7 linked regions of the Homo sapiens genome follow. The protein of the gene in region 3 interacts with the protein of the main gene of each other region in a biochemical or structural test. Each region holds a gene or a part of one and is shown on either strand. Other genes may lie near its edges.

Region 1 (3,500 bases), on a different chromosome or scaffold from region 3:
CTCGGCCTCCCAAAGTGCTGATATTACAGGTATGAGCCACCATGCCTGGCCTTTTTTTTTTTTTTTTTGAGACGGAGTCACTCTGTCACGCAGGCTGGCGCAGTCTCAGCTCACTGCAGCCTCCGCCTCCCCGGTTCAAGCAATTCTCCTGCCTCAGCCTCCCGAGTAGGTGGGATTACAGGCGCCCACCACCACGTCATGCTAATTCTTGTATTTTTAGTAGAGATGGGGTTTTACTATGTTAGCCAGGCTGGTCTCGAACTCCTGACCTCACGTGATTCACCTGCCTTGGCCTCCCAAAGTGCTGGGATTACAGGCGTGAGCCACCATGCCTGGCTTCCTTGCTGTCTTTTTTTTTTTTTGAGATGGAGTCTCGCTCTGTCACCCAGGCTGGAGTGCAGTGGCGTGATCTCGGCTCACTGCAAGCTCCACCTCCCAGGTTGATGCCATTCTCCTGGCTCAGCCTCCCGAGTAGCTGGGATTACAGGCGCCTGCCACCACGCTTGGCTAATTTTTTGTATTTTTAGTAGAGATGGGGTTTCACCGTGTTAGCCAGGATGGTCTTGATCTCCTGACCTCGTGATCCGCCCACCTCGGCCTCCCAAAGTCTTTCTTTTTTTAAGGCAGGTTCTTGGTCTGTCACCCAGGCTGGAGTGCAGTGACATGATATTGGCTCATTGCAACCTCCGCCTCCTGGGCTCCCACCTCAGCCCCTTGAGTAGCTGGGACTACAGGTGGGTGCCACCACGCCCAGCTAATTTTTTTTTTTTTTTTTGAGACTGAGTCGCACTCTGTGGCCCAGGCTGGAGTGCAGTGGGGCGATGCTCATTGCAAGCTCCGCCTCCCAGGTTCATGCCATTCTCCTGCCTCAGCCTCCCGAGTTACTGGGTCTACACGTGCCCGCCACCACACCCGGCTAATTTTTTGTATTTTTAGTAGAGAAGGGGTTTCACCTTGCTAGCCAGGATGGTCTCGATCTCCTGACCTCGTGATCCGCCTGCCTTGGCCTCCCAAAGTGCTGGGATTATAGGCATAAGCCACCGTGCCGGGCTTTTTTTTTTTTTTTTTTTTTTTTGTAGAGAGGAGGTCTCACGGTTGCCCAGGCTGGTCTTGAACTCCTGGGCTCAATCCATCTGCCCACATCGGCCTTCCAAAGTGCTGGGATTATAGGCATGAGCCACTGCACCTAGCCAAGGCTTTTCATTAATGATGGTGATAATAATACTAGCTAACATGTATCAGCCCCATACTGTGTGCTGGCCAAATAGCCAATGAACTAGATCCTGTTATCTGCATTCTCCAGGCAGGGGCTCTCAGGTCCAGAAGGGAGACTTTGCCTCTTCGAGCCTTGGTTTCCTCATTTGGGAAATGGGGTGAACGCCACCCCCCTCAAAGGACTGGGTGAGGTAATAGAGCCACGAGGAAATCTGAGCCTCTGCTCTGGAAGGTCTCATTTTGGGGAGTGTGACGAGGAAGAGGAGGCAGAGCCAGCCAGGGTGGGGGAGGGAGGCCAGGAGCAGCTGGCCCCAGGCAGGAGCTGAGGCCATACCCCTGGCAGCTGGGCCCTCCCAGCCCTGCAGGGAGAAACCCAAGCTCTGCTACATAATTGATGGCTGCTGAGCTCCTGGTGGCCGCCCAGCCCGCCACCCCCCACCGCAGCTGGAGCCAACTGCAGCCAGGGATGATTCATGGCTGACCGACTCCTGCGTGGCCCTGCCCCTTGCTCAGCCTCAGTGGCAGCATCTGTGAAATGGGAAACAGCCCTCCTTGCATTAGAGGTTGATGAGGTCATGAGGAAACCCTTAGGACAGGGCTGGCCAACAGTGTTTGTTGTTCCTTATCTTACTCCTGCAGGTCTTCACCCTGGCTGTGACCTTGGGCAAGCCCTTTCTCTTAGCTAGAGAAGGCCTTGGTGTCCCCGTTTGGAAAATGGGGACATGTGTTCCAGGGCCCTCTTAGATCAGAGGGGCCAGGACTTGGACCAGTTTCTGGTTGTTCCTAGGTAGCCCCCACGGCTTCTGCCAGCTTTGATGGGGACCCATGCGACATCCGGGCCCTGGGTGTGCCCAGCCGCTGGCTCTGATAGGCTGGCAGTGTTTCCATCTACCCTACCAGGTGGCCAAAGCCAACCGTTTGGCCATCCTCCCTCCCTGCATTCCCCTTCCTTCCCAGACGTCTCTGCACCCATCAGCTCATAGCACCGGTGCCTTACGTGGGGCAGCAGCACTGTAGCCGACCCAGCCTTTATGTCTAACCCACATCTTTCCTCTTTCATCCTCATAACCTATGGGGGAGGTGCTATTATTCCCTTTTTTCAGCTCAGGAAACCAATGCTCAGAGAGGCAGAGCCCCTTGCCCAAAGTCACACATCTTGACAGTGGCAGAACTAAGACTTGAATCAGGTCCTTCTGAACCCCGACCCTGGGTTCTTCCTCTCCCTCCTCTGGCACCCTCTCCCTAGCAGCTCCCAGCTGCCCATGGAGCCCCCTGATAACCCCAGACCCTACTCCCTGCCCTGTTTGTCCCGAGTACTTTCTACCAAGTCCTCTCCTTCAGAGTCAGACTCAAAGGACCCTAGGGCTGGCCTCCCCAGGGTTCCTCACCGCACTAAGCTGTGTGCCAGATTGTATATGAAGGTGCATTTTTGTGGGGAGAGAGTGTAGCTTTCATTGGATTTCCAAAAGAAGCTGTGATTCCCACACTCTGGCCCAGCCACCTCATTTCACAAAGGGGAAAACAGTGAGGCCCTGCCAGGTCACACAGTATCACACTCAGGGCTGGTTCCTTGACCCTGGGGCCTGCCTGGGTTCCTGCTGGTGGGGAGGGGCAGTCCTCCCTTTCCCCACCACTCCCCCACCTCCTTCTGAGCTCTCCCCCTCCCCACCCCTTGGCCTTCCCCTCTGCGTAGTTCACGGAGGAGAAATTTGGCCAGGCTGAGAAGACTGAGCTTGATGCCCACTTTGAAAACCTTCTGGCCCGGGCAGACAGCACCAAGAACTGGACAGAGAAGATCTTGAGGCAGACAGAGGTGCTGCTGCAGCCCAACCCCAGTGAGTGCGTGTTCGTGGGCCCGGGGAGGGATGTAGTCGTGGGGCAGGGATACAGTAGGAGGCCTGGCCCTGTTGTGGCATAGGTGGGGCGGGGCTGCAGCCGGGGTTTCAGCTAGACTCTTGGGCTCAAGGCTGTTGAAGAGGGACAGTTAAAAGAAAATGGGGGACTCTGTGTTGGGCTGCCAGACACTCCAGGGCAGTGGAAACACTGAGTTTTGCACAGAAGAGTTAAAATGCCTGGAAGCTAAAACACACGTGGGAGAAGAGGCAGGCAAAACACACACCTGGTTGGTCACTCTGTTGGTTTTTTTTTTTTTTTTTTTGAGGTGGAGTCTTGCTCTGTCACCCATTCTGGAGTGCAATGGTGCAATCTTGGCTCACTGCAACCCTTGCCTCCTGGGTTCAAGCGATTCTCCTGCCTCAGCCTCCTGAATAGCTGGGACTACAGGC
Region 2 (3,500 bases), on a different chromosome or scaffold from region 3:
TAAGTAATAAATATTTTAGGCTTTGTGGGTCCTGTAGTCTCTGTTGCAACCACTCAACTTGGCCATGGTAGCACAAAAGCAGCTAAAGACAATATGTAAATGATGGGTGTAGCTGTGTTCCAGTAAAACTTATAAAAAGTCCGTGGGCTGGATTTGGTCCAAGGGCTACAGATTGCACACCCCTGGTCTAGCCCAAGCATCTGTGCATGGTGGCTGGCTTCCCAAAAGTGGAAGCTGCTAAGCTGCCTTTTTTTTTTTTTTTTTTTTTTTTGAGAGGGAGTCTCACTGTGTTGCCTAGGCTGGAGTGCGGTGGTGTGATCTCGGCTCACTGCAACCTCCATCTCCCGGGTGCAGGCAATTCTCATGCCTCAACCTCCCAGGTAGCTGGGATTACGGGTGCCTACCACCACGCCTGGCTAATTTTTGTATTTTGGTAGAGACAGGGTTTCACCATGTTGGCCAGGCTGGTCTCAAACTCCTGACCTCAAGTGATCCACCCGTCTTGGCCTCCCAAAGTGCTGGGATTACAGATGTGAGCCACCGTGTCTGGCCGCTTGACAAGCTTCTTAAAGGCACTGCCCTGAACTGGCACAGTGTCACTTGTGTCACATTCTTTTGGTTGAAGAGAGTCTCAGAGATGGCACAGATTCAAAGGCAGGAGAAATAGACTCCAGCGCTTAAAGTAAGGAGTAGCATGTGCCTACAGAATTGGAGGAACTGTTGGAGGCCATCTTTGAAGAGAGACCACCACTATCCATGGCTTGGCACGTGGGAATCACTGCTCTATACCAGGGTTGCAGACTCATGTCTTTGGGGGCCAGGCAGTGAGTATAAATGAGTCAAGTGGGCCAGTTGGAAGATGGAGTCAGACCTGCAGTGAACTCCCAAACACATCTGCTACCGGGAGGGGCAGCATTACTCAGCTCCAGCTCAGCGTCATCAGGCAGGAAGGCGAGGCAGTGTTGCCGGATGTGCCAGTGTTTCAAAAGAAGCCAGAGACTCCATTTTTATTTTTTTGTATGGAATCTCCTGATTTTGAAATATTGGCAGATAATTCAAATTATCTTAAACACTACAGGCCAAACAAAACATATCTGTGGGCTAGAGACAGTCTGCCAGTTTGTAACTATTTCTCCAGATCATGAGTAAATTTGGCTTTACGATGGTCACTCAGTTCTTATTACTCTAGGTTGTTCAAATGAATTAAAAAAGCTGAAATTATATGAATAAACCCCTGGGCACACATGAAAGAAGTGAAAAACCCATTGTTTCCTATTGTAGAAACATGGAAGCATGTCAGAGCCAGAGGATCCAGAGGAAATATTCTCACTAGCCTCAGACCCTCAGGAGTGAGGGAGCTTTTCTTGTTAATGGCCACGCTTGTGCAGTTTTCCTTCCCAGGTGCTGGTGAAAGAAACCCACAGTCTTGGAATCATGGAAGTGATACCATAATGACTGTCAGTTGACGTTGCTTTAAAGAATGAAGCCACAGAATTGTGCTGTTAGCATGTCGTGAGCAGTTAGTTGAGTTGGTGGCTTGTAATTTACTCTGTGTGGATGTTATTGATCAAAGCTTTTCATTATTGACAGTGTCTCCATCTGCTGTTTGCTGTTTTTAGGGGAAACCACCCTTTATGACTCAACAGCAGATGTCTCCTCTTTCCCGAGAAGGGATATTAGATGCCCTCTTTGTTCTCTTTGAAGAATGCAGTCAGCCTGCTCTGATGAAGATTAAGCACGTGAGCAACTTTGTCCGGAAGTGTAAGTTTGGGGAACTTTTTCTTGAAAACTGTCCTGAGAGAGAAAAACTAGAAAGATGCTTGAGGCAGAATGAGTTACTGGTTGATAGTAGTCGGTAAGAACTCTGGTTCTATATAAGACAGATCCAGGTTCAAATTCAGGCTGCACCTCTTATAGCTGGGAGACCAGGTAAGTTGGGCTTCTTGGTTGCAAGCGACAAACTTAATTCAAAGACTGAATTTAGGCCAGGTGCAATGGCTCATACCTATAATCTCAGCCCTTTGGGAAGCTGAGGTGGGTGAATCGCTTGAGCCCAGGAGTTCAAGACCAGCTTGGGCAACATGGTGAAACCCCATCTCTACAAAAAATACAAAAATTAGCTGGGTATGGTGGCTTGCACCCGTGGTCCCAGCTGCTGAGGAGGCTGAGGTGGGAGGATCACTGGAGCCCGGGAGGTTGAGGCTCAATGAGCTGTGATTGTGCCATTGCACTCCAGTCTGGGTGACAGAGTGAGACCCTGTGTGAATAAAAGAGTGAATTTATTGGCTCATGAAACTGAGAAATCCAGGAATGAGTTAAGTTTTAGCTTTAGGCATAGCTAGTTCCAGAGACCTCAATAATATCCCGTGGCCCTGTCCTTATACTCACTCAGGGCTGACTTTCTATTAGGCAGAGTAGGCACGGTGCTTAGGATCTGTGATATTTAATTTTAATGAATTTAATTACTTTTAATTAACTGAATTAAATTTTAATTTGTTTTAAAATTATAGGAAAAATGAATATAATAATGTATAATGATTCTGGATTACATTCATCTTTATACTAATGTAGTCATAAAATATAATTTTTGTTTTTTTTGGAGACAGAGTCTTGCCCTATTACCCAGGCTGGATTGCAGTGGTATATCATGGCTCACTGCAGTTTCAACCTTCTAGGCTCAAGCAATCCTTCCACCCCAGTGGCTGGGACTACAGGCTCACACTACCACGCCCAGCTAATTTTTGCTTTTTTCTCTGTAGAGATAGGGTCTTACTATGTTACCCAGGCTGGTTTCAAACTCCAGGCTTGAAGCAGTCTTCCTGCCTCAGCCTCCCAAAGCTTTGGGATTACAGGTGTGAGCCACCATGCCTGGCCCCATAAAATATAATTTTTGAATTCTTTTTTGTTTTTAATGGAGGAAGGGGCTGAGGAAGGCAAAAGTACCTAGGGCCTATGAAGTCATATATTGGCCTTGCCTTCACCCTGTTTCTGACTTTGCTTGACTTCCATGTGATGAGGCAGTTGGCTGTTAGTGTCCCAGTTTCATACTCTTACATTAGTGTTTTTCAACCAGTGGGTGATTTGACGTTTTCGGTTGTCAGAGCTAGTTGGGGGTGGTGGTGTGTGAGTTTGGGGGGAAGGGTCCTACTGTCAGTTAATGGGTGAGGCCAGAGATGCCACCAAACACCTTACAGTGCACAAAGCAGCCCCCATAACACAGAATTATGTAGCCCACAATGCCAACAGTGCTGAATTTGAGAAACCCCACCTTGTACAACATTGCTGTGCAACCAACCACCCTAAATATTACTGACTTAAAACAATAGTCACTGTGGCTGGGCGCGGTGGCTCATGCGTGTAAGCCCAGCGCTTTGGGAGGCTGAGGCGGCGGATCACTTGAGGTCAGGAGTTCCAGACCAGCCTGGCCAACATGGTGAAACCTTGTCTCTACTAAAAATACAAGAATTAGCTGAATGTGGCAGCGGGCGCCTGTAATCCCA
Region 3 (3,500 bases):
GTAATTCCAGCACTTTTGAGAGGCTAAGGCAAGTAGACAGCTTGGGCCTAGGAGCTCAAGAACAGCCTATGCAACATGGCTAAACCCCATCTCCAGACAGCGTGGTGGCTCGTGCCTGTAATCCCAGCACTTTGGGAGGCTTAGGTGGGTGGATCACCAGAGGTCAGGAGTTCGAGACCAGCCTGGCCAACATGGCGAAACCTCATCTCTACTAAAATTACTAAAATTAGCCGGGCGCAGTGGTGTGCACCTATAGTCCCAGCTACTTGGGAGGCTGAGGCAGAAGAAACACTTGAACCCAGGAGGTGGAGGTTGTGATGAGTCGAGATCGCAATACTACACTCACTCCAGCCTGGGCAACAGAGTGAGACTCTGTATCAAAAAAGTCAAAAACCCCATCTCCACAAAAACATACAAAAACTTAGCAGTTTACAGTGGTACATGTGCCTGCATTCCCACCTACTTGAGAGGCTGAGGTGGGAGGATCACTGGAGTCCAGGATTCAAGGTAGCAGTGAGCTATGATCACGCTACTACTGCACTCCAGCCAGGGTGACAAAGTGAGACTTCATCTCTTAAAAACAAATAAATAGGCTGGGCGCAGTGGCTCACGTCTATAATCCCAAAACTTTGAGAGGCTGAGGCAGGTGGATCGCGTTAGGTCAGGAGTTCGAGACCAGTCTGGCCAACATGGTGAAACCCCATCTCTATTAAAAATACAAAAAGATTGCCAGGCGCAGTGGTTCATGCCTATAATCCCAGCACTGTGAAGGCCGGGGCGGGTGGATCACCTCAGGTCGGGAGTTGGGAGACCAGCATAACCAACATGGAGAAACCCCGTCTCTACTAAAAATACAAAATTAGCTGGGCGTGGTGGCACATGCCTGCAATCCCAGCTACTTGAGAGGCTGAGGCTGGAGAATCGCTTGAACCCGGGAGGCGGAAGTTGCAGTGAGCCGAGATCGTGCCATTGCACTCCAGCCTGGGCAACAAGAGCGAAACTCCGTCTCAAAAACAACAAAACAAAACAAAAAAATTAACTGGGCATGGTGGTGCACACCTGTAATCCCAGCTACTAGGGAGGCTGAGGCAGGGAAATTCCTTGAACCAGGGAGGTGGAGGTTGCAGTGAGCCAAGATCGTGCCACTGCCCTCCAGCCTGGGCGACAGAGCGAGACTCCGTCTCAAAATAAATAAATAAATAAATAAATAAAAATAAATAGACCAGGTGCAGTGGCTCATCAGGCCTGTAATCTCAGCACTTTGGGAGGCCGAGGCAGGTGGATCAGGAGTTTGAGACCAGTCTGGCCAACATGTTGAAACCCTGTCTCTACTAATAATACAAAAATTAGTCAGGCATGGTGGTGCATGCCTGTAATCCCAGCTACTTGGGAGGCTGAGGCAGAAGAAGTGCTTGAACCCGGGAGGCGGAGTGCAGTGAGCTGAGATCGCACCATTGCACTCCAGCCTGCGTGACAAGAGCAAAAGTCTGTCTCAAAAAAACAAAAATAAAAATAAATAAAACAAAACAGCATACAACCATGACCCACCTCTACAAATGTTATTTGTAATATTTACTGTTACTGGGTTTACTGTTGTTATTTTCTGATTTACTTTTTTGGGGGCATTGAGGGGAGCCTATTCTGTCTTCCCTCATCTAGAACAGAAGTTTTTTTTTTTTTTTTTTAGATGGACTCTTGCTCTGTCGCCCAGGCTGGAGCGCAGTGGCGCAATCTCAGCTCACTACAACCTCTGCCTCCCGGGTTCAAGCAATTCTCCTGCCTCAGCCTCCCGAGTAGCTGGGATTACAGGCACTCGCCACCACGCCCGGATGATTTTTTTGTATTTTTAGTAGAGACAGGGATTCACCATGTTGGACAGGCTGGTCTTGAACTCCTGACCTCAGGATCCACCCACCTTGGCCTCCCAAAGTGGTGGGATTACAGGTGTGAGCCACAGTGCCTGGCCTAGAATAGATGTTCTGTTAGTAGGTGCTGTAGTTATTTCCTGAATATGTGAAATTATACCAATAGTCTACCCCCTTCCTGGAGTTTGAGGTACATAGAATTTGAATAAATTGACTGTCGCCACTTTTGGTGAATAAATTTTCAAACTTTTTTTTTTTTTTTTTTTGAGACAAGAGTCTCACTCTGTCACCTAGGCTGGAGTGCAGTGATGCGATCTCGGCTCACTGCAACCTCTGCCTCCCAGGTTCAAGCAATTCTCCTGCCTCAGCCTCCTGAGTAGCTGGGATTACAGGTACATGCCACCATACTTGGCTAAGTTTTGTATTTTTAGTAGCGACAGGATTTCACCATGTTGGCCAGGCTGGTCTCGAACTCCTGACCTCAGGTGATCCGCCTACCTCAGCCTCCCGAAGTGCTGGGATTACAGGCGTGAGCCACCATGCCCGGCCTAAAAAATATAAAAATTAACCAAGCGCAGCAGTGTGTGCCTGTAGTACCAACTACTGGGTGGGGACTGAGATGGGAGGATTGTTTGAGCCCAGGAGGTCGAGGCAGCAGTAAACTGAATCTGCAACTGCACTCAAGACTGGGCAAGAAAGCGAGACCCTGTCTCAAAAAGAAAAAAGTGAGACTGAAGAGACAAAATGTTTTGCTCTGGAGGCAGTTTTTTCCCTCAAGAATTATACACTAGATAACGAGGGCAAAGGCACACAGTCCTTCTCATTCCAATAGGATCTAGGTGAAGTTATTTATGTGTGTATCTGATAGGAGAGTGTCAACTAGCTCAAATTTTCTCTGTGGCCTAAAGCTCTGCCCAGCCTCCAGGGCCTTCCAGCAGCTTCACAAAAGGAAGTCATATTAGTTTGAAAACCAAAACTAGGCTGGGTGTGGTGGCTCACACCTGTAATCCCAGCACTTTGGGAGGCCAAGGTGAGTGGATCACCAGAGGTCAGAAGTTTGAGAGAAGCCTGGCCAACACGGAGAAACCCGGTCTCTACTAAAAATACAAAAATCACCCAGGCGTGGGGGCGTATGCCTGTAGTCCAAGCTACTTGGGAGGCTGAGACAGGAGATTTGCTTGAACCTGGAAGGCGGAGGTTGCAGTGAGCCAAGATTGTGCCACTCAACTCCAGCCTGGGCAACAGAGCGAGACCCCGCCTCTAAATCAATCAATCAATCATAACTGCTGAAAATGATCTAAGTGAACCAACGGCATGGAATACGTGCTCTTTCTCTGTCCTGGGACATACTGCACAGAGGACTCAATCTTAGCTCAGCTCCTTGGGCCAGCATGACCTTAAACAAGTGGCTCAATATCTTGGAGCAACCCCAGTTATCATCATTAAGGTAGGGACAACCATAACAACACAATCACTCTAACACTAACTATCCAGGCAACCCGAGGCCACAAGCAGACCCTCAAAGGCTGTTTGTGGTAATGACGACAACATCCTTGACCCACCTGCTGCCCTGTCATGACAGGGAGGGCTGCAGCACAAGTTTATTAATAGATACCTCATCATCTTCAGCACAAA
Region 4 (2,925 bases), on a different chromosome or scaffold from region 3:
GGTTCACTGCAACCTCCGCCCCCCCAAGGTTCAAGCAATTCTCATGCCTCAGCCTCCTGAGTAGCTGGGGCTACAGGCGCCTACTACCATGCCAGGCTAACTTTCGTATTTTTAGTAGATGTGGTTTTGCCATATTGGCAGACTGGTCTCGAACTCCTGACCTCAAGTGATGTCCCTGCCTCAGCCTCCCAAAGTGCTGGGATTACAGGCATGAGCCATCATGCCTGGCTTTAGTTTATATTTTAAAAGTACATTGCTGGTAATGTTTCTCACTTCAAATATTACAGACCAAAAGACATTCAGCAGCTATGCCTGTGACTGCCAACAAATGAAAAATCTCTAAGTCAAATTTCCAAGAAGGATATCTAAAGACTGTATTCTCTCAGATAGGTATTTTTTATCCTTTCACCTACATTTATAAACAATCCCAAATAATAACAGTATGATAGTGTGTACAGCTTCTGATTTTACTTATTTTACGGAATTAAACAGAAGTCTACTTCTTAGAACACCTAAATATTTATTTGGATAAAATAAAATAACAAGAATCTGGAGAAAAGAAACTAAGAGCCCCAAAGTTAAAGCTGGTAAAATAGTTCAAGAACTTGCAGCAAGTACCTAGAAAATATTAAATGGTTAGGACAAAACATTCACAGTTCAAGGTCCCAAGAAAATGATCTGGTGAGCAAATACATATACACACTTAAAACTAATCTGGATGAATTAGTGAAGCAATGAATAAATAGGTCAATTACTAAACCCACATAACTTATTCAAATAAAATCTAATACAAAAAATAAACTTAAAAAAATAGGTTAAAACACTAAATCTTAACTAAAATATTAGGCAAACTAGAACAGGAGGGCCGTTATTAAATTGTTCACAATAACTTACTATTTGAGACAAAACTGAATAGAAAATCTGAATTGTGAGAATAAACAAGTTGTTTCTCAACTACAATTATTTGACAGCTACTCAAAAAGTGCATATACTGCAGGTCTTAATACTACTAACTACTGGTAAAAATGACTAAACCAGAACTGCCAGCACCAAATTAATTTCAAGGGTTATAATTTTATGCATTTAGTATTAACTAAAATGCTAATTATCATTGGTTAGCTTTTCAAAATCATACTGCCTACAGAATTTCCACAAAAGACTAATTTCACACAATTTAATTAAGATGTGAATATGAGATTCTGTGACTCTTCCCACTCCTCTCCCCCTGACAAAGAAAACTCATATAGTGGAGGAAAAAATGGAGTCATGCAAATAGGACAATGATGAGGATCAATTGAATAGTGAAGACTCCCAAAGTTAATTAATTAGATTTTAACTGCTTCAAAAAGACCAGGGTACTTGGATCACATCAAGTAACTGGATGTTGGAATATGAGATTAATGCTTGTACAATCCTCTCATTGTATGTAAAGATGCTATCCTAAGAAAATGATTTGAATAGTATCTTCCCTTATTAAATCTTAGAAAATTTTACTTTCAGGTATTTCATAACCTGAAAAGGCTAAGAACTTCCAAGAGTTCTAATACAGTAAAAAAATCAACCATGTCCCATATGTATTGAAACAAATTAGAAACTGTTAAGAATTTAAGTACCTTGAAACTACTAAATTCAAGATAACACAAAGATTCATGTTGAACAGACCTCACCAGATCCAGACTGACAACATATACCACAAAATTTGGCCTAATAGTCACAAACCATGAAGACACAAATATATTCGTTAATATTAGCAGCTCTGCTATAACTAGAATAGTTTTCAAAATATTTCCAGTGGCTCTAAAGAATGTCTAGCCACAGCTCAAAAATCACATCCAGGTAAGATCTTAGTCTTAGAAATCTGTGCATTATCTTGTTTTCCTGATAATTTAAAAAATCAAATTTTCACCTATATACATCCCCAGAAAAAATTTTGAATCTCCTTTTCAGGTACAGTGAAAATTCAATAATACATCTCCTTAATAAGATTTCCATCATATTGATAAATTTATATTTTTATTTTTCATTTCACTTGAAAAAAATTAGCTAATTTTTACCAATGAAATGGTAAAAATAGAGGCAACTATAACTTAAAATTACACAGCTTCTTAATGTTTTATTCATAGCATTCTTTATACATCAGAAGCTTCACTGATATTTAATTTACTGCAGCATCCTGTAGGTGAAGCACAAAAATTACATTAAACAAAGAAACAAAAGCACTTTTGACTTTTTAAAATTATATGTGTATTTATATCCAGTTGACAAATAGCATCACAATTATTACTGTATAAAAAACTAAAAATCACCATGGAAGCTAAGGCCTAAATTCTCATTCCAATTGTTCCCTTTTGTTGATACCTAAGAGATATTAATTAGATTCCAGTACCTCAAAAAAAAAAACAAACCCAAATAAACAAAAAAACCCAGGTCTACATTATTTACATACAGTATGGGAAAAAAAGCTGCTTTTTGGCTAACTTAGATTGCGGTTACCTGCAGTATTTACACTGTAAATGTTAAGGGGAAGAAGCACTACTAACAAATACCATTTAAAAAAAATATATTGTGCCTGGAATTTTATTCTTAAATTAGTTGTATATCCTAATAAGTGTCTGTTGAATAGAATTTGACTTCTAATAAATCTACTGAAAGTGTGAAACAGAGTACCACTATGCTTCTTTATATTGCTAATCTAGATCCTGTTAGGTCCAATATTGTAGTTAACTATAAGCACTGAACCTTAAATGAAACAATGGCAACATGTGTGTAGATGAAATTTTATTCAGTATTGTAAAATATAATGCCTTGATGTTTACTCACAATTATGAGACTATCCTATTCTTTTAATCCTTTAAGAAGTCTCATATGATAGGTCCCTAAACAGTGAAACCTTCCAGTAACTTACCAGAAAAAAGTTTAATTATG
Region 5 (2,636 bases), on a different chromosome or scaffold from region 3:
GAACGCCTGACCTCATGATCCACCCGCCTTGGCCTCCCAAATTGCTGGGATTACAGGCGTGAGCCACCGCGCCCGGCCGTCTGTCTGGTTTTCAAACCAATCAATGAACCCGTAAGCCTCTTTGGTATATATAACAATGAAAAAATTCATTAAGCCATGAAATCTAGAAATAAGTCATATTTCTGAGTTGATAAAATGCTTTTCTGAACATACATTTTAGGTATCTGGCACAATTAACCAAATGTCTGCCCATTTTTGTGTAGCTTTCATACAGTACAGATTTCATTGATGTCGCTCCCACATCTGAGTATTAAAAACATTTGACATTGTTCTTCTCAGTCCTCACAACACCCCTGTGAGGTAGGTGGTATTGACCCCATTCCACAGATGGGGAGGTCTAGGCACGGAAAGGTTTAGTGGCTCCTCACAGGCCGCGTGGTGGGGCAGCAGAGTGGTGCTCTGGCCCCGCGCCGACGCCGCCTTCACATTCACACTTCTTCAGTGCCACCGCAACACTGCATGGCAGGATCTCACGCTGAGGCCAAGTTCCTGTCTAGTCCAGAATGAAGCCAGCGTCTCACCTCTTAAAGCTTCGATGTGTGACTCAAAGCCAACTTACTCTCCCAAACTTGCAAAACAAACATACTGACTGAATCTTAGTTGGGACTATTTGCAGTATTTAAGATTATTTTTGAGAGTCAATCTGCTTGGATTTGTAGTTGTATATGCTCAAATCCCTTTGGAAAACAGTTTGAAATGACATGAGGGACAATGTAATTTTGAGAACAGAACACAGAAAACAAGAGTTCTGAGACTGGCATTGAAATTGAGAATATAAGCTATGGTAAAATGAGAATCAAATCCCAAATAAACGGAGAGCAGCACTTCTCAATGTTTAAGGCCACGCACAGGGCAGGCATTCAGTAAGCACTTCTTGGATCAAAAGAAACTGATGCTCCTTTGAGCCGCCTATCACTGACAACAGGAGCTGAGACCCCCGGGAAAGCCAGCCAGGGCCATGATCCCCTTGGCCTGGGGCCACGGTCACACAAAGCCACTCAGCCAAATCGTGTAGAGTTATCTAGGCTTACTTGCTGCAGGATAAAAGTTGAACTAGAACACCAAGCATTGAGCTAGGAATACCCCTTTGAATGTGTACTGCTACTTATAAAAAATAGGTATGTAGCTATGATTAAATAGATGAAGGGCCAAAGCATCCTATGAGGAAGTATTTTTAAAATTGTATAGATGTTCATGCAGTGGGGGACAGAAATAAAGAGGTTAAAGCGGTCTGTGTTTTTCGGTTAAATGAAAGGTTGTAAATGCATTTTTACCGCTGATAAGAAGGGGTACCTGCTACCCCTTTCTGCTGTGGAGTGTTGCTGAGGACAGAGTCCATCTCTCCCAGCGAGTCCTGGTTATCCTTTACTTACACTCTGGCCTCGGGGGCAGTGGCGTGTGGCCTCGGTCCTCCCCAGGTAACTCTGGAGGGCGCTGTGGAATATTGCTGTGATTTGCCCCTTACTCGTCTTTCACCCATGTTCCGCCTTGATTCGGCATAAGGACAGACTGCTCCAGTGGGGCCTTGGGTCCTCAGGCCTTCTGACCGCTTGGTCTTGAGTGACATTCCAGAAGAGTGACTAATGACATAAAACGATTAAGAAAATCCATGTGGCAGCGGCCAACCGGAAACAGTTTTGTCCCAGGCTGCACAGGGTCGGAGGCCCCAAGGTCACCGGGGCCACTGCCCGTCACAGGTCCACCTTGACCCCCTTTATGAAAGGCAGGCCCGTGGGCACCCTCTTCTTATACTCCAGGTACTCCTCTCCAAAAAAGTGAATTAGTGAGATTTCTTCTTCTTCTGTTCGATCGCGGAAGAATCGCCACACTGTCAGGGCATAGCTGACGCCGCAGATGGGGTTACACAGCATCACCTAACAGAGGGAGACACCAGGCTCATCAGGGTGACCGTGGGATGACGCCCTGTGCTTTGGTAGGCGTCTGTCTCTAATACCCAGAGGATTTCTGTGCCCATGCCCTGCTGAGACCGTCAGGGTCTCTGGGAGCAGTACTGTCACCTTAGCCCTGAGCACTCAGTGCTGCAGGCCTTTCTCACGTGCTTTCCTGTTGCTCCTCTTACATGAGAGAGATCTGTAAATCACAAGATCAACCTCTTGGATTTCAACCCTCAGCTTGGGGTGACAGCAATGCCCCCCACCTCCAGGTGTGAGCTCCCCAACATGAGGTCCCATGCACGCTGCCTTCCTGCCCAGGACCCTCCCACCACAAATGCATTCGCTTACACCACAGCTGCCTGGGCCTCTGCCTCCTAAACCCACAGCCTCTGCTTCAGCACGAGATACAGTGCCACAAAACTCAGCTTCCGAAATGCCCCTTCCAGCAGATTACCTCCACGCTCAGAGAGCTCCAGAGACTGAACCCCACCCCCTGAGTCTGGGTTTCCAACCCCAGAAGAGCAGCACTTCGCCCACTTCCCCAGTCTCCTGCCCTCCCCACGCTGTGCCCACTTTGCCTCTTTTTTTTCCCCCGAGACAGATTGTCACTCTGTCACGTGGAGTGCAGTGGCGTGATCATGGCTCACTGCAGCCTTAACTGCTTGGGCTCAAGTGATTCTC
Region 6 (3,500 bases), on a different chromosome or scaffold from region 3:
GTGAACAGACCACACCCGCCTGGGCCATGCAGCGCGAGTCCAGGCTGGAAATCCACGTGGGACTCTGCGTGGCACTCTGTGCCAGCGAGACCAAGGCCTGTCCCCTGGGGGGCCTCTGGTGCACACCTTTGGAGGATGGCGGCTCCCAGGCCACCGCCCACCTACACAGCAGCCGAGAAAAGCTCTTAACTCACAGGGTGGCACGCGGCGTCCCTCGACCACAGGACAGAGTCCATCTCCCCACACACAACCCCAAGAAACAGTACCCAGGGATCTAGACACAGCGGGCTCAGGGCTGGGATCCCTACGACAGGAGGCTAGGGACCCTACGACAGGAGGCTGGGGCCCCCACAGCGGGGAAGGCTGGGCAACAGGAGACACACAGGCTGGGTGCAGACACAGGGTGGGCAGCGGCACAGGGGCCGGCCGTGGCTGGGGGCAAGGACACACTCGGGGCTTCGTGACCCACTTGGCAGGCAGAGCCGCCTGCGGTCACCACTTACCACTCACCCCAGGGCAGGCAGCTGACGGGAGAGAGAAAGCGCGTGTCGGCCCCAAACCTGGCTCTGCCCACAGAGCGAGTGGAGCTGGGGTGGGGGCTGCATCCTCGGGACAGTGGGGATGGCCACCCTGTCCTGAGCCAGGCAAGGCCGGGTGTAGGGGCACAGGAGGGAGGCATAGCAGGGAGCCACAGGCATCTCCCGTCCCAGCCACAGACAACTCATTCTGCTCGAGTTCTGCTTCGCCTGGACTGGGGTCACGATCAAGGGTCAAGGTTCAGGGGTAGAACAGCCATGGACACCTGGGGGGTCCTCATGGGACCCTTTGGGGGCTAGATGGGCTGAGGACGAGAGGCCAATGTGAAGGCACGGTGTGCAGCGTGGAGTCCCAGGCTCCAGCCCCTCCATGGGCCAGAACCCCGTTCCCCCCGGCCCTGCCCTGTCTCCACGGACCAGACCCCCGTTCCCCCCGGCCCTGCCCTGTCTCCATGTTCCAGATCCCCCTTTCCCCCAGCCCTGCCCTGTTGCCAGGTGCCCCCTCTTCTGGGCACTGTGGGTCTGAAGGGCAGCGTTCAAAGTTTGGGAGCTGCACTGACTGGCCTGGGGAGCTCCAGGCAGAGAGCAGAGGCCCTAAGGCCTCCCGGGCAGGGGGAGTGAGGCTGAGGCTGTACCGGGAGGGCCATGCCTGGGATCCTGACAGCTGGTCACAAACACGCTCTGGCCCTTGGCGAGGCAGCCGCAGCGGGGCCCGGCACATCCAGGAGCTGCGTCCTGTGGGCCTCCCTACTGGGTGGAGGCCTCAGGTGCAGCGTGGAAGCTGGGCCTGACCCCACGGTGCCCCACGGAGCTGGTATCACCTACTGGGCAGCCTCGGATGAGCGCTGACCCTCTGACCTCAGGCCCCTTGCTGTAAAACGGGCAACAGAGTCCTTCCTGCTGTTGTGAGGCACAAACAAGGTGGCACCTACAAGCCCCCAGTGAATTCAAGGAAGTGATGCCAGATGAAAACAGCGAGTCTGGCTGTGGGGCCTGTGCACCTGCAGACCCCGACCTCCCTCTGGCCACCCCCTGGGGTGTGTGAAGAGCCGGCTTGACCGCACACTCACCAGCAGGTCGGGGAGCACCAGGGCAGTGAGCAGCCGGCCCCGCACAGCCATGTCCTTCAGCAGCATGTACAGCCGCTCGGCCTCCGCAAAGCAGGCAACGTCCAACACTACCGCGCCTGCGGCAGGAGCCCAGGACTCAGGGGGAGCCTGTCCCATGGCCCCCACGGTGCCAGGGCAGGAACCAAACCAGGACGTTTCCCCAGCCCAGGGCTGCCCAAGGGAAAGGTCAGGTGCTACGTGAGGGCCAGGGCTGTCCCACTTCACCCCAGGAACACCCCTGGGCCTCATGTGACCACGTCCCTCAGGGCAGCTCACCTTGGGAGGAGTAGATGTGACTCACGGACACCACGGTGGCTGCAAAGGCAGGCTGTGGTCAGGGCGGTGGGAGGCGAAGGACACACAGCACTGGGGCCAGGGACAGCCCCTCCGCCTGTCCAGGGGTGACATCTCACCCCAAAGGCAGCCTCCCCAGGAAGTACCCCTGCCCCACTCCAGGAGCAGGACTCCCAGCTCCCTGGAGGTACAGGACCCCCCAGAGGGAGAGGGAGAGGCAGAGGCTGAGCACCGCAGGGAACGGCCACAGAGGGCGAGAGGCTCCAGAGCCTCTTGGAGGAAGAGACGTGGGCTGGACCCGGAGCTCAGGCCTTGGTGGCTCAAGGAGAGGCAGGAGCCGGCTCAGCACTGCAGCCCCACTGCCTGCCGCTCGACCCTGCCCCGTGCCAGCAGCCCACGGCCAGCCACAGTGGTCACACCTTTGGTAGCCCCGGCCTCATGCAGCAGGCTGCTGTACTCCTCGGGAGACAGGCCGGGAGGCAGGCCGCCAACAAACAGGGAGACGTGCGGGGCTACATCCCTGCTCTCTGCCACGTAGAACCGCGTCTGGCTCACCTGCCGCACAGACATCTGCAGGGAGAGGGGCGGGGATGCTGGGCCGGGGAGAACGGCACCACCGCACCAGGCCCTCTGTCTCCTCACCCGCAAAACAGCAAAACAGGGCATCAGGAACACTCCCAGGAATTAAGTCAACAGGAAAACGAGGAAAGGGGCCACAGAGGCTTCCTTGCTGTGGACAACCCCTGTCCGTTCCCCTCGAGGACCTCGGGGAGATCTGCAGCTCGAGGCCTCCCTGCAGGGACCAAGTAGCTCATGACGAGGGCGCTGCCCTGTCAGCCAGGACAGCCGCTGCCTAGCCAAGGAGAACTCGGCGTCTGGGGCACACCCACCCTGTGGGGCAGAGGCTGTGGCTGAGGGCTGCTGGTTCCCTGGGGGCCGGCGTCCACACCCACTCACCTGCCGGATGTCCTGTAGCCGGTCCAGCAGGGGCTGTTCGTCCATCAGCATCGTCCGCTGGACTGCAGAGGTGAGGGCACAGGCCGTCAGCACCCGGCTCCTCGCCCACCTTGGAAGCAGCTGCCCGGAGCCCCCAGGGCCCGTGGGGATGCAGGGTGGAGCTGGTCAGGAGGGCAGAGCCCGGCCTTGATGTCCGGCACCACCCTGCAGGAAAGCCTGGGCAGCAGGTCCAAACCCAAAAGGTGCAGGGACCGCCACGCCCAGCACGGGCTGTCTACTCACCGTGCCTGCAGCCCATCGCCACCTCCACCAGCTGGAAGCTCTCGGGACTCTCGGCCTGTTGGGGTAGAGCTTGGCATCGGGTCTGGGCAGGCCCCCACCACCTCAGGACACCCGCGGGGACAGCCACGCCTGGGCTGGGATGGTGGCCTGGCCTCCTGGGGACAGCGACCCCCCACCGAGTCTGGCCGGCATGGGGAGCAGGCACAGGGTACGCACCTGGCGGCCGAGCAGCGGCAGGACCTCCAGCACCACAGAGCGGGCCGTGCTCTTCGGGGTCACTCGCACGGACACGTAGGCCACGCCCACCCTGTGGGGACACAGT
Region 7 (3,500 bases), on a different chromosome or scaffold from region 3:
TGAACTCCTGACCACAGGTGATCCACCCGTCTTGGCCTCCCACAGTGCTGGGATTACAGGTGTGAGCCACCATGCCTGGCCTGATTTTTAAAACATATGACCACTTATTCCTTTAAATACAAAAGCTTTTAATTTTTGTTATTGGAAATGATCCTGAGAATGGGTGTGTACGCAGACATCCCAGTGCCAAGGGGGTTGTAGTTCAGATGGCCTGGGGTTGAAGGCCAGGAAGGCAGGATTCTTGTCCATCCTTGAACCCCCTGCATCTGGCACAGCTGATGAGTGAGACTTCTCTCCATGTTACGCACAGCCACTGAGTTATGGATAATGCACCACCTCTCAGAAACTAGCTCGGATATAGAAGAACTCAATACCATCAACCAACAGGATCTAACTGATATGTATAAAACTTCACCTAACAATAGCAGAATACACATTCTTTTCAAGTGAGGAACATATACCAAGAAAGACCATATTCTTGGGCTGCAAAACAAATCTCAACACATTTATAAGAACAGAAATCATACAGAGTATGTTCTCTGATTACAATGAATCAAACTTGAAATCAAGAATGGAAAGACAACGGGAAAATCTCTGAACACTGGAAGCCAAACAACATACATTTAAAGAATGGATGGGTCAAAGAGGAAGTTCCAAGGGAAATTGGAAAAAAAAAAAAAAAAAGCTGGAGTAAATGAAAAAGAAAATACAATACATCAAAATTTGTGGAACACAGCTAAATCAGTGATGAGAGGGAAATTTATAGTGTTCTTATTAAATATGTATGTTAGAAAAGAGGAACAGTCTCAAATAAAGAATGTAAGTTCCCACCAAAGCAATTTGTAGAAATAATAAAGGTAGGATCAGAAATCAATGAAACTGAGAACAGAAAACAACAGAGAAAACTAATGAAACAAAGAACGAGTTCTTTGGAAAGATGAGGAGTGATACATCTCAATCTAGATTGACAAAGAAAAAAGGAAAAGATGCAAATTACAAATATCAGAAATGAAACAGGGAATATCACTACAGACCCTGCAGACGTCAAAAAGATAAGAAAGAATACTATAAACAACCCTACACATTGCCTTGAAAAGCACACTACTATATCTCATTGTGAAACAGATAGTTTCAATAGTTGCGTAACTATTAAGGACACTGAATTCATAATTTTAAAAGTCTCCCAAAGAAATCTCTAGGCCCAGATAGTTTTATTGAGCATCTACAAGAATCCTACAACTAACATTACACCTGACAGTGAAAAACTAAACACTTTCCTCCTAAGGTTGGGGACAAAGCAGAGATGTCCAGTCTCGCCACTCTTATCATATGGTGGAAGCTCTAGTTGGGGCAGTACGCAGTGGGGCAGGGTGTTGTGGGTGGGGGGTAGAATAAAAGGCATATCTTCAAAAAGGAAGAAACCAAACTGTCCTTATTTGCACATGACATGATGGTCTATATGGAAAATGTCAAGGACTTCACAAAAAACCATCTCAAATACGTGTGCTCAGCAAGGTCGCAGGAGACAAGATAAATATACAAAAATCAATTGTGTTTCTATGTGCAGCAATGAATACATAAATGCCAAAATTAAAAATATAATACTGTGATGACTTCTTAAAGTGGAATATTAAAGGTAAGTCAAACAAAATACGTACTGAACTTGTGTGCTGAGAACTACTCGACACTGATGAAAGAAATCAAATGTTGGGAATACCATGTTTGTTGACTAGAAGAGTCAACACAGTAAAGACATTTCTTCTCCTTAAAATATAGGTTTAACACAACTCCTATGAAAACCCCAGGAAATTTGTTTTCATATATGTAGACAAGATAATTTTAAAATTGCCATGAAAAGGCAAAAGAACTAGAAGCTAACACAATTTTGAAAAAGAAAACAAAGAGGGAAGAATGAGTGTACTTGATTTCAAGACATTATATAGTTGCAGCAATTAAGACCTTGTGGTACAGACAGAGGAAGAGGTATGTAGATAAACATAATTGAATAGAGAGTCTCCAGAACAGACCCACACAAATGTGCCCAGAGCTTTGACAACGGTGGAGAAGAAATCCAGTGGAAGAAAGGGCCTTTTCAACAAACAGTGCTACAGCAATTGGACATCCAGAGGTAAAACAAATCATGATCTAATTCTCATACCTTATACAAAAATTAGCTCAAATTAGGTCATAGACTTCAATGTAAAACTATGAAATTTGAGGGGAAAAAGGCTTAGGGGAATATACTTGGAATCTAGGACCAAAAGTATAAACCTTAAAAGGAGAAATTGACAAATTGGAGTTCGTCAAAATTAAATGCTTTGGCTACGTGAAAAACCCTGTTAAAGAGGATGAAAAGACAAGTTACAGACCAGGAGAAAATATTCGCAAACCACATATGTGGCAAAGAACTAGTATCTGCAGTATATAAGGAATTCTCAAAATGTAACAAAACCGTAAAACAAAAGCACAAAACCAAACAATCCAGTTAGAAAATGGGCAACAGAAATAAGACATTTTACCAAAGAGGATATGCGAATGGCAAATAAGCACGTGGAAAGGTGTTTAGCACCATCAACACTGGGGAAACGCAACAGAAAACCACCGTGAGATGGCACACACATCAGGATGTGAGCATAATATGAAGAATCACTACCCCACCACGTGCTGGGGAAAGGGGAAGCAACTAGTCTCTCATACACTGAGAACCGTTTGGCATTTTCTTAAACGAAACATGCAACTACTATATAACCCTGCAATTACATTCTGGGCACTTAAGCCCAAGAAATGAAAACTTACATTTACACCAACATCAGTATATCAATGTTTGTAACAGCTTTATCTGTAATACTCAAATCCGGAAACAACCCAGATACCCTTCAACAGGTGAATGATTGAAAGAACTGTGGTCCGTCCACACCGGGGAACACAATGAGTGAGCCACCGGCACCTGGGGGTCTGCAGAGAGCTGTGCTGAGCAAACAAACAAATCCCGAGAGTGACATTCTGTGGGATTCATTAATGTCACATTCTTGAAATGGCAAAAGCACAGCCACGGAAACAGATGAGTGGTTGCCGGGGGCTGAGGAGGGACATGGGTGAGTCCACGAAGGGCCGCAGGAGGGAGACGTCTGGGTCTGGCTGCACTGGCCGTGTCGCTGTGCACCTCATGACTGTGACGCCGTCCTACAGTCTGGCACACAGCAGGCACATCCTACATGCATGTTGAATAAAAGGGCATGCAAATGACTATGAAGGGAGAGCAAAGGCTTCCTGCTACTTTACGAATAATGCAGTGTAAGTGCATCCCAGTGAGCTGATTTTCAATCACCTTTCTATACAATGACGCAGTCATCAATCGTGCATTTCAAGGCTCAGCCTGACTTAATCTCACAGGCTCCACCTGGCAAGCGGAGACTTTTCTGCATTAAGCCAAAGTCAACTGGGTGGCACGGCTCAGCTCCCGGCACTGGGACCAGGGCGCAGGCACAGGAGGCCCCGTG

Evidence for each region.
Region 1: the proteins of RHOA (region 3) and SH3GLB2 form a complex in vitro, tested with the Homo sapiens proteins (one study listed by BioGRID).
Region 2: the proteins of RHOA (region 3) and CIT form a complex in vitro, tested with the Homo sapiens proteins (2 studies listed by BioGRID, with this or other methods).
Region 4: the proteins of RHOA (region 3) and ARHGAP5 form a complex in vitro, tested with the Homo sapiens proteins (one study listed by BioGRID).
Region 5: of the proteins of RHOA (region 3) and ICMT, one has a biochemical effect on the other in vitro, tested with the Homo sapiens proteins (one study listed by BioGRID).
Region 6: the proteins of RHOA (region 3) and DGKQ form a complex in vitro, tested with the Homo sapiens proteins (one study listed by BioGRID).
Region 7: the proteins of RHOA (region 3) and MCF2L are reported together in a solved structure, tested with the Homo sapiens proteins (one study listed by BioGRID).

The regions. Positions count from the first base shown.
Region 1 is NC_000009.12:129,021,832-129,025,331, reverse strand, and holds part of SH3GLB2 (endophilin-B2), read left to right. Parts: intron 1-2,908; coding exon 2,909-3,050; intron 3,051-3,500.
Region 2 is NC_000012.12:119,867,321-119,870,820, reverse strand, and holds part of CIT (citron Rho-interacting kinase), read left to right. Parts: intron 1-1,619; coding exon 1,620-1,761; intron 1,762-3,500. UniProt on the Homo sapiens protein: Plays a role in cytokinesis. Required for KIF14 localization to the central spindle and midbody. Putative RHO/RAC effector that binds to the GTP-bound forms of RHO and RAC1. It probably binds p21 with a tighter specificity in vivo.
Region 3 is NC_000003.12:49,363,477-49,366,976, forward strand, and holds part of RHOA (transforming protein RhoA isoform 1 precursor), read right to left. Parts: intron 1-3,500. UniProt on the Homo sapiens protein: Small GTPase which cycles between an active GTP-bound and an inactive GDP-bound state.
Region 4 is NC_000014.9:32,157,304-32,160,228, reverse strand, and holds the end of ARHGAP5 (rho GTPase-activating protein 5), read right to left. Parts: 3' UTR 501-2,925; downstream 1-500. UniProt on the Homo sapiens protein: GTPase-activating protein for Rho family members.
Region 5 is NC_000001.11:6,223,329-6,225,964, forward strand, and holds part of ICMT (protein-S-isoprenylcysteine O-methyltransferase), read right to left. Parts: intron 1,935-2,636; coding exon 1,752-1,934; 3' UTR 1-1,751. UniProt on the Homo sapiens protein: Catalyzes the post-translational methylation of isoprenylated C-terminal cysteine residues.
Region 6 is NC_000004.12:963,570-967,069, forward strand, and holds part of DGKQ (diacylglycerol kinase theta), read right to left. Parts: intron 3,486-3,500; coding exon 3,395-3,485; intron 3,234-3,394; coding exon 3,179-3,233; intron 2,959-3,178; coding exon 2,897-2,958; intron 2,733-2,896; coding exon of another isoform or gene 2,510-2,732; coding exon 2,359-2,509; intron 1,961-2,358; coding exon 1,922-1,960; intron 1,723-1,921; coding exon 1,607-1,722; intron 525-1,606; coding exon of another isoform or gene 507-524; exon of another isoform or gene 1-506. UniProt on the Homo sapiens protein: Diacylglycerol kinase that converts diacylglycerol/DAG into phosphatidic acid/phosphatidate/PA and regulates the respective levels of these two bioactive lipids.
Region 7 is NC_000013.11:113,070,214-113,073,713, reverse strand, and holds part of MCF2L (guanine nucleotide exchange factor DBS), read right to left. Parts: intron 1-3,500. UniProt on the Homo sapiens protein: Guanine nucleotide exchange factor that catalyzes guanine nucleotide exchange on RHOA and CDC42, and thereby contributes to the regulation of RHOA and CDC42 signaling pathways. Seems to lack activity with RAC1.